2 linked regions of the Homo sapiens genome follow. The protein of the gene in region 1 purifies or fractionates together with the protein of each later gene. This does not show direct contact. Each region holds a gene or a part of one and is shown on either strand. Other genes may lie near its edges.

What was found. The genes of interacting proteins can lie anywhere in the genome.
Region 2: the proteins of NBEAL1 (region 1) and ANKRD22 purify together in Homo sapiens (co-immunoprecipitation; one large-scale study listed by IntAct). This does not show direct contact.

What each region holds. Positions count from the first base shown.
Region 1 is NC_000002.12:203,133,375-203,136,874, reverse strand, and holds part of NBEAL1 (neurobeachin-like protein 1), read right to left. Parts: intron 1,199-3,500; coding exon 623-1,198; intron 277-622; coding exon 101-276; intron 1-100.
Region 2 is NC_000010.11:88,845,345-88,848,844, reverse strand, and holds part of ANKRD22 (ankyrin repeat domain-containing protein 22), read left to right. Parts: intron 1-3,500.

The sequences.
Region 1 (3,500 bases):
TATATCCACAGAATACTGAATAAATGTTCAATAACTAACGTTATTTTAGACTCCTGCTGTCACCAAAAGGAGGATGGAAAATCACTAACTAAATGCTTACGTTAGTTTTATTTCATCTGATGGTCGAAGTAGTTCACTGGATATTCCTGGTTTACTTAGTGCTGAAAACACTTGTCCTCGTTCAATCCAAGTATCATCATCAGACTTTTCTAGTCCCTTACACATTACATAATTCAAAATATGTGTCAGTAATTGAAGAAGCTCCTCCTCACATCTCTATGGAAAATATAAAGTAATTTTAAATAACTAGAGGGTGTAGTTGTTCAAAGCACATCATAAGAACCATTACATATACTCATTGTAATCATTTAACATATTTTTAAAGTCCTTAATGAACCTGGAACTTTACTAGGCCCTAGAGACATAAGATGAGTAAGACATTAGCTTTGCTCTCAAAAAACTCACAATCTAGTGACTTCCAGGTTTCTAAACCTTAGATCATGAAACTTAGAACATGAATACAATATGAAATTGTTAACAACTGCTCACATATTTCTAAGGATTAGAAGTATATATCAGACATGAAAATAAAAACAACATTTGGAAAAATAAGCAATTTTACCTCTTGGCTTTCAAGTAAAGAGAAGTCATCACTAAAGCCCATATCATTTGTGATGCTGCTTTCTCTGTCAGAGTGCACAGAAAACGATTTAGTAGACTCTACTGGGGATGGTGTGCTAGGCAGACTGTCTGGCACTTGACTTCCACTATCACTCATTTCACATGAGTCAATTCCACTGAGGTCTAAACTCAAATGTGAAGGGTTACTATGCCAGAATTCCTCTTGATTCTCTGATTTGAAAGACAATTCTCCCACAGAGCTATCTTCTGGAAATAATGGTGTGTTTGAGTCTAAAGAGTGTCTATCCTCCAAACTCCACTGATCCGAAGACACATTAGCTGAGGCAAAAGAGGTGATTTTTTCCTCATCTGTTTTTTCATCAGAGTTCTTCTTGGTATCTTCAGTTGACATATTTTTATCATTGTCTTTCATTAAAACAGCTCTACTGTGCTTATGAAGAGTATTTCCGTTTTCAAATTTTGCTTTTAAAAAAAGCCTAACTAAGGTGTCTTGCCAACCCACTTGCTGTGATATTTGATGTGCTGCATCTGGCTGGAACTGCAAAATTTGCAAAACCTGTAAAAAGATTTAGAATACAAAATTCTTCAAAAAGTACATAGTACTTTATATCAAAAATAATATTTTCAGTTATTTTAATGATAAGGTAATTTAATGAGAAACTATAGAAGAATATACTTTCAAAAGATTATATTCTTAATTAGATTATAAACTATTTGGAAGACTGGCACTGTGTTTCCAACTAATCTCCATATTACTCATTGTACAGAGTAAGAGTACACTAAAATATCTGCTGGAAGATAAAAAAGAAAAATTAAAATGAATAGGATGATGGTATATGTTAAATAATAGAGTAATATCCTCTCAACTAAATACTTTCCATGAGCCCCCTACATTTGTTCAGGAAATATTATTGCACACCTACTATGTGCTAGGCACAGTTTTAGGCACTAGCATTAGGGGAGTGAATAGGACACATAAGACATTTTGATAGAAACTGAGTATACCAAGGATGTTTTTCTGTCTCGTTTTTTTCAGGGAAAGTTAAGTTTTTTTTTTTTTTTTGAGACAGGGTCTTGCTCTGTCGCACCAGTGCAGTGGTGCGATCTTGACTCACTACAACCTCCGGCTCCTAGGTTCATGCAACTCTCCTGCCTCAGCCTCCCGAGTAGCTGGGACTACAGGCACACAGCACCACTCCTGGCTAATTTTTGTATTTTTAGTACAGACAGGGTTTCACCATGTTGGCCAGGCTGGTCTCGAACTCCTGACCTCCTGTGATCTGCCTGCCTCGGCTTCCCAAAGTGCTGGGATTACAGGCATGAGCCATGGTTGCTTTTGCAAAAACTTTTTTGTTCAGTATGTCTACACTAAAGTCTACATTGCTTAGTAAGTCTATATTATACAAACAGAACAAAAACTAAACTTTAATTCCAGAAAATGAATTTCAGCAAGATGGATGCCACTGCTTAGCTAGAATAGTAAACAGTGACATGAGAATACGTATGATCTCTACTATCCAATTGATTAAAATTTTTAGATAAAAACAAGTTCTTAAAAAGCTTTAGACATTCAGTTAAGATCTTTTAAGACAATTTTATCACAAAGTCAATAAACTTCTATGTAGATGAAAAGAACTCTAGCTTCCAGGGTTTTGAGTATCTCTCTTAACAGAAGTTTTAGCTCTGACAATTTTCAGAGCAAGAGATGAACAATGTTGGTAAGGACTTCAATATTACTAGTACTAATACATGTTGATACAGAAGGCAAGGAGTCACAATGACGTGAAGATTCTTTCTTTATTAATACAATATCAATCAGTGAGCAACTGTTACTTTATAGGTGCAGAATAACAATTTTTTTCTTCCAGATTAAGCTTTACTTGGCAAAGAAACTTTTCATGCTGACTTTAAAGTTTCCATAAAATATGACTTATTTTATATCTATTTTATACATAAATAATAGATAAAACCAAGCTGCACTGAGAGCTGTTTCTAATTATACGTGAAAAGGAAAGGATCAATTTATATGACCTGCTCCAAATACTCAGAGCTAAGTACATAGGGAAATAATCACTGTCACACACACTGTTTGTATAAATGTAAACTGGTACAGTTATTTTGAAGGACAATGTGGAAAAATCCATCAAAATGTAAAACGTTAATACCCTTTGAAACAGCAATTCTATTTCATGGAGTATGTCCTACAGATGTATTACCACAAATTGGAAAACATAAAAAGACATTCATAACAGCAGTTTATAACATGGAAAAGCAGGAAACAACCTAAATGTCTATCAATAAGGAACCAGATAATACTTTATTAAATAGCCATACAATGAAACACTATGCATTTCCATTAAAGAGAAAAGGAAATTATACATATATATTATACAACAAATATATATATTTTTCTTTTCTGTCAGTTAAACAAATAAATTATATATGTGTGTGTATATATGTGTATATATATATAAACTCTATATATAGAGATCTCTTATTCTCACACACACATATATATATATATATATCAAGAACTGTGACAAAATCATGAGGTAAAATAAAAAAAAGAAAAGCAAGGAAGCAAATTAAATAGGTCAATGGTTACTAGTGGAGGACAGAGAAAGTTATGATCTGAAAGGGGAAGACAGGATAACTATCTCTTGACTTAGTTAAAGGTTAACTGTGTACTAAAGACAAATCATTGTTGGAATACTCCTAAACAAATTATAGAAAATTATTTCCAGAAAGTTTCAAAAGATTCAGAAACTCTATAATATGGTATATTAATTAGAAATGGTCACAATCATTGAAGGTTCTTAATAAGAAAATTATTCTCTGGTAATACATTTTTGACTCTG
Region 2 (3,500 bases), on another chromosome or scaffold:
TATTGGAAAAGCTGGTACAGTTGAGGAGGAGAAGTCAGGGAATACAGGAATAGAGATGTGACTAATTGAATGGCCATTGGACTGAAAGTCAAGCAATCCTATATTTTAGACCTGATTGTGCCAGGAACTTCAAGGGATTTGAGAGGAAGTCATTTAACCTCTCTGAGTCACAGTTTTAATATTACAAAACAAGAGAGCTGAATGAGATCTGGTTTCACATTTAACATCGTGTCATTCTGTGATATGAGAAAGGCTAGGCAGAGACAATGGGGAAAAAATTGCATTCTCACAATCTTCCCAGCTCTCTCCATCTACCTTGTTTATGTATGAACTCCTAGCAAGATTTTGGTATTCAACAACATATGCAAGAAGAGCATCAGGCGTTTTCATCCCAACTGGTTTTCTAATTCTTTCCTTGTATATTGAAAGTAATTTTACAAATTAAAATGTTGTGCTAAGTCACAAAAGTTCAGAGAGAAAATGATAACTTTCACATATGAAAAGACACCAGGATTGAAAATGTGTATACCTTTATTTATTTATTCATTCACCCATCCATTTGTTTAATCAACCATATTTATTGAGTACATACTATGTTTCAGGCATCTTCTAGTTCCTGGTGTATATATGTATATATATATGTATATATACATATATACATATATATATACACATATATACATATATATATATACACGCATATATGTTGGGCATCCCTAATCTGAAAATTTGAGTGGAAGTGCTCCAAAACTCCAAATTTTTGAGCACAAACATGAAACAAGTAGAAAATTTCCTACTTGACCTCATGTGATGGGTCACAGTCAAAATGCAGGTACACAATGCACAGTTTACTCAGAATTAACAAGAGAAAAAAGAATTTCCCAGCCCCTTTCGGCTGTGATATATCTTTTTCTTGAACACCCAGTTTTTCCCATGAAAGCAAGTCCACAAAGGGTAAAAAATGGCACCTGTGCAGGATGAATGAGCCTATAGCAGATTTGCCACTCTGCCTCCATGGGGCCAAGATTTGTGTGTATTTCTCTGTGTGTGTCTTTTTTTGTTTTTTGGGGTTTTTTTTTATTTTGTTTTTGTTTTGCTTTTTCTCTACTCTGTGATGTAAATATACTGTTGAAAATATCAAAAAGGTCTGCAGATACTTATGGGTAACAGTGATAAGAAAAAAAAAGGAAGCATTTATGTATACTTATAACACAGAAAGTCAAGCTTTTGGATAAATTGGACAGTGGTATAGGTATAAAATGTCTGATAGAAGAGTATGGTGTTGAGGCCAGGCGCAGTGGCTCATGCCTGTAATTCCAGCACTTTGGGAAGCTGAGGCAGGTGGATCACCTGAGGTTGGGAGTTTGAGACCAGCCTGGCCAACAAGGTGAAACCCTGTCTCTACTAAAAACAGAAAAATTAGCTGGGTGTGGAGGCATGTGCCTGTAATCCCAGCTACTTGGGAGGCTGAGGCAGGAAAATTGCTTGAACCTGGGAGGCAGAGGTTGTAGTGAGCTGAGATCACATCACTGCACTCCAGCCTGGGCAACAGAGTGAGTCTCCATCTCAAAAAAGTAACAATAAAAAAAGAGTATGGTGTTGAAATGACCACCATATATGACTCAAAGAAATAGAAGGATAAACTGTTTAAGTCCTATGCTGAAGTTAATGAAAAATGTAAAAAAACATTCCACAAAGCTACAAATGAAGATCCCAATTGTGTATTGAGAAAGTGGATCCATCAGTATCACAAAGAACACATGCCACTTAATGGTATGCTGATCATGAAACAGGAAAAGATCTATCACGATGAACTGAAAATTTAAAAGAACTGCGAATATGCGTAGTTCTTTGGCATAAATTTAAGAAAAAACATGGCATTAAATTTTCAAATATTTGTAGTGACGAAACATCTGCTGATCAGAAAGCAGCAGAGAAATTTATTGATGAGTTTGCCAAGATCATCACTGATAAAAATTCTCACACTAGATCAAGTCTATAGTGCTGATGAAACATCACTGTTTTGGCATTATTGCTTCAGAAAGACACTGACTTCAGCCGATGAGACAGGCCTTGTGGGCAATCAGGATACCAAGGACAGGATAATTGCGCTGGGATGTGCTAATGCAGCAGGCACACACAAATGTAAACCTGCTGTAATAGGCAAAAGCTTGAATTCTCACTATTTTCAAAGAGTAAATTTCTTACTAGTCCATTATCATGCTAACAAAAGGCATGGGTCACCAGGGACATCTTTTGTGATTGTTTTCACAACATTTTGTAGCAATGGCTCATGCTCACTGCAGGGAAGCTGGACTGGATGAAGGCTGCAAGATTTTGTTATTCCTTGACAACTTTTATGCTTATTCTTCAGCTAAAATTCTCATCAAAAGTAATACTTATTCCATGTGCTTTTCCCCAAATGTGACTTTATTAATTTAGCCATGTGAGAATGGTGTCCTTAGATCAATCAGTGTAAATATAAAACATTTTCGTAAACAGTATGTTATCAGCAGTGAACATAGGTGTGGGTGTTTCGCATAAAGGATGTTGTATATGCTGTTGCCAATGCTTGTAATGCAGTAACTAAAGACAGTTGTGCATACCTGGCATAACCTCTGTCCTGCAACTATGTTCAGTAAGTATTATAAATAAAGTGACTTTGAATGATTCTGTATGTCAAATGAGAAAAAAAAAAGATGTCTGACCATACATACGCAAAAAAAAGTACCTTCAGAGTCCACCAGTAAGTTGGAAGAAGTTGATATTGAAGAAATTTTTAACACTGATAATGAGGCTCCAGTTGTTCATTTATTAACCAATGGTGAAATAGCTGAAATGGTTCTGAATCAAGATGATTGTGATAATAGCAATAATGACGATGGTGGTTAACACTGTAAAGACTTTGTCAGGGGCCAGATCAGGCAGGTCTTGTAGGCCAAGGTGAAAAATTTAGATTTTATGCAAAACACAATGGAAAGCGGGTAAAGGATCTTAAGAGAGGAATAATATGACCATTAGGGTTTAAAAAGGCCACTCTGGTAGCATGGGAGAATAAATTTGAGAGATGCCAGAGGGAAAGCTGGATCTTGGAAGGAAGCTGTTACAGTAGTTTATGGAGTGATAATGATGGTTGCATTAGACTAATGGGTGAATTTTAGATAAATTTTTAACTAAAAGATTTCCTGGTTTGTAGGTTGGCAGTGAAGGAAAGTAAGAAATTAAAGTTGATACTCAGTATTCTGCCTTAGGCCAGCCAGTGGATGGTGGTGCTGATGAGATGGGAACACTCAGAGAGGGGCAGAAGGAAAGACACATTTCAGGGTTCTATTTGGACATGGTACTTTAGCGATATCCATGAGACATCTAGGTGGGGATGGAAGATGAATACAGGAAATGTACCTTTAAGGAGAGGCTCGGGCAAGAGATAATAATTTAGGAGTTGTCTGCATATACATGGTATTTAACGCCAAGAGAAGGGATGAGTTTAGACATGGAAA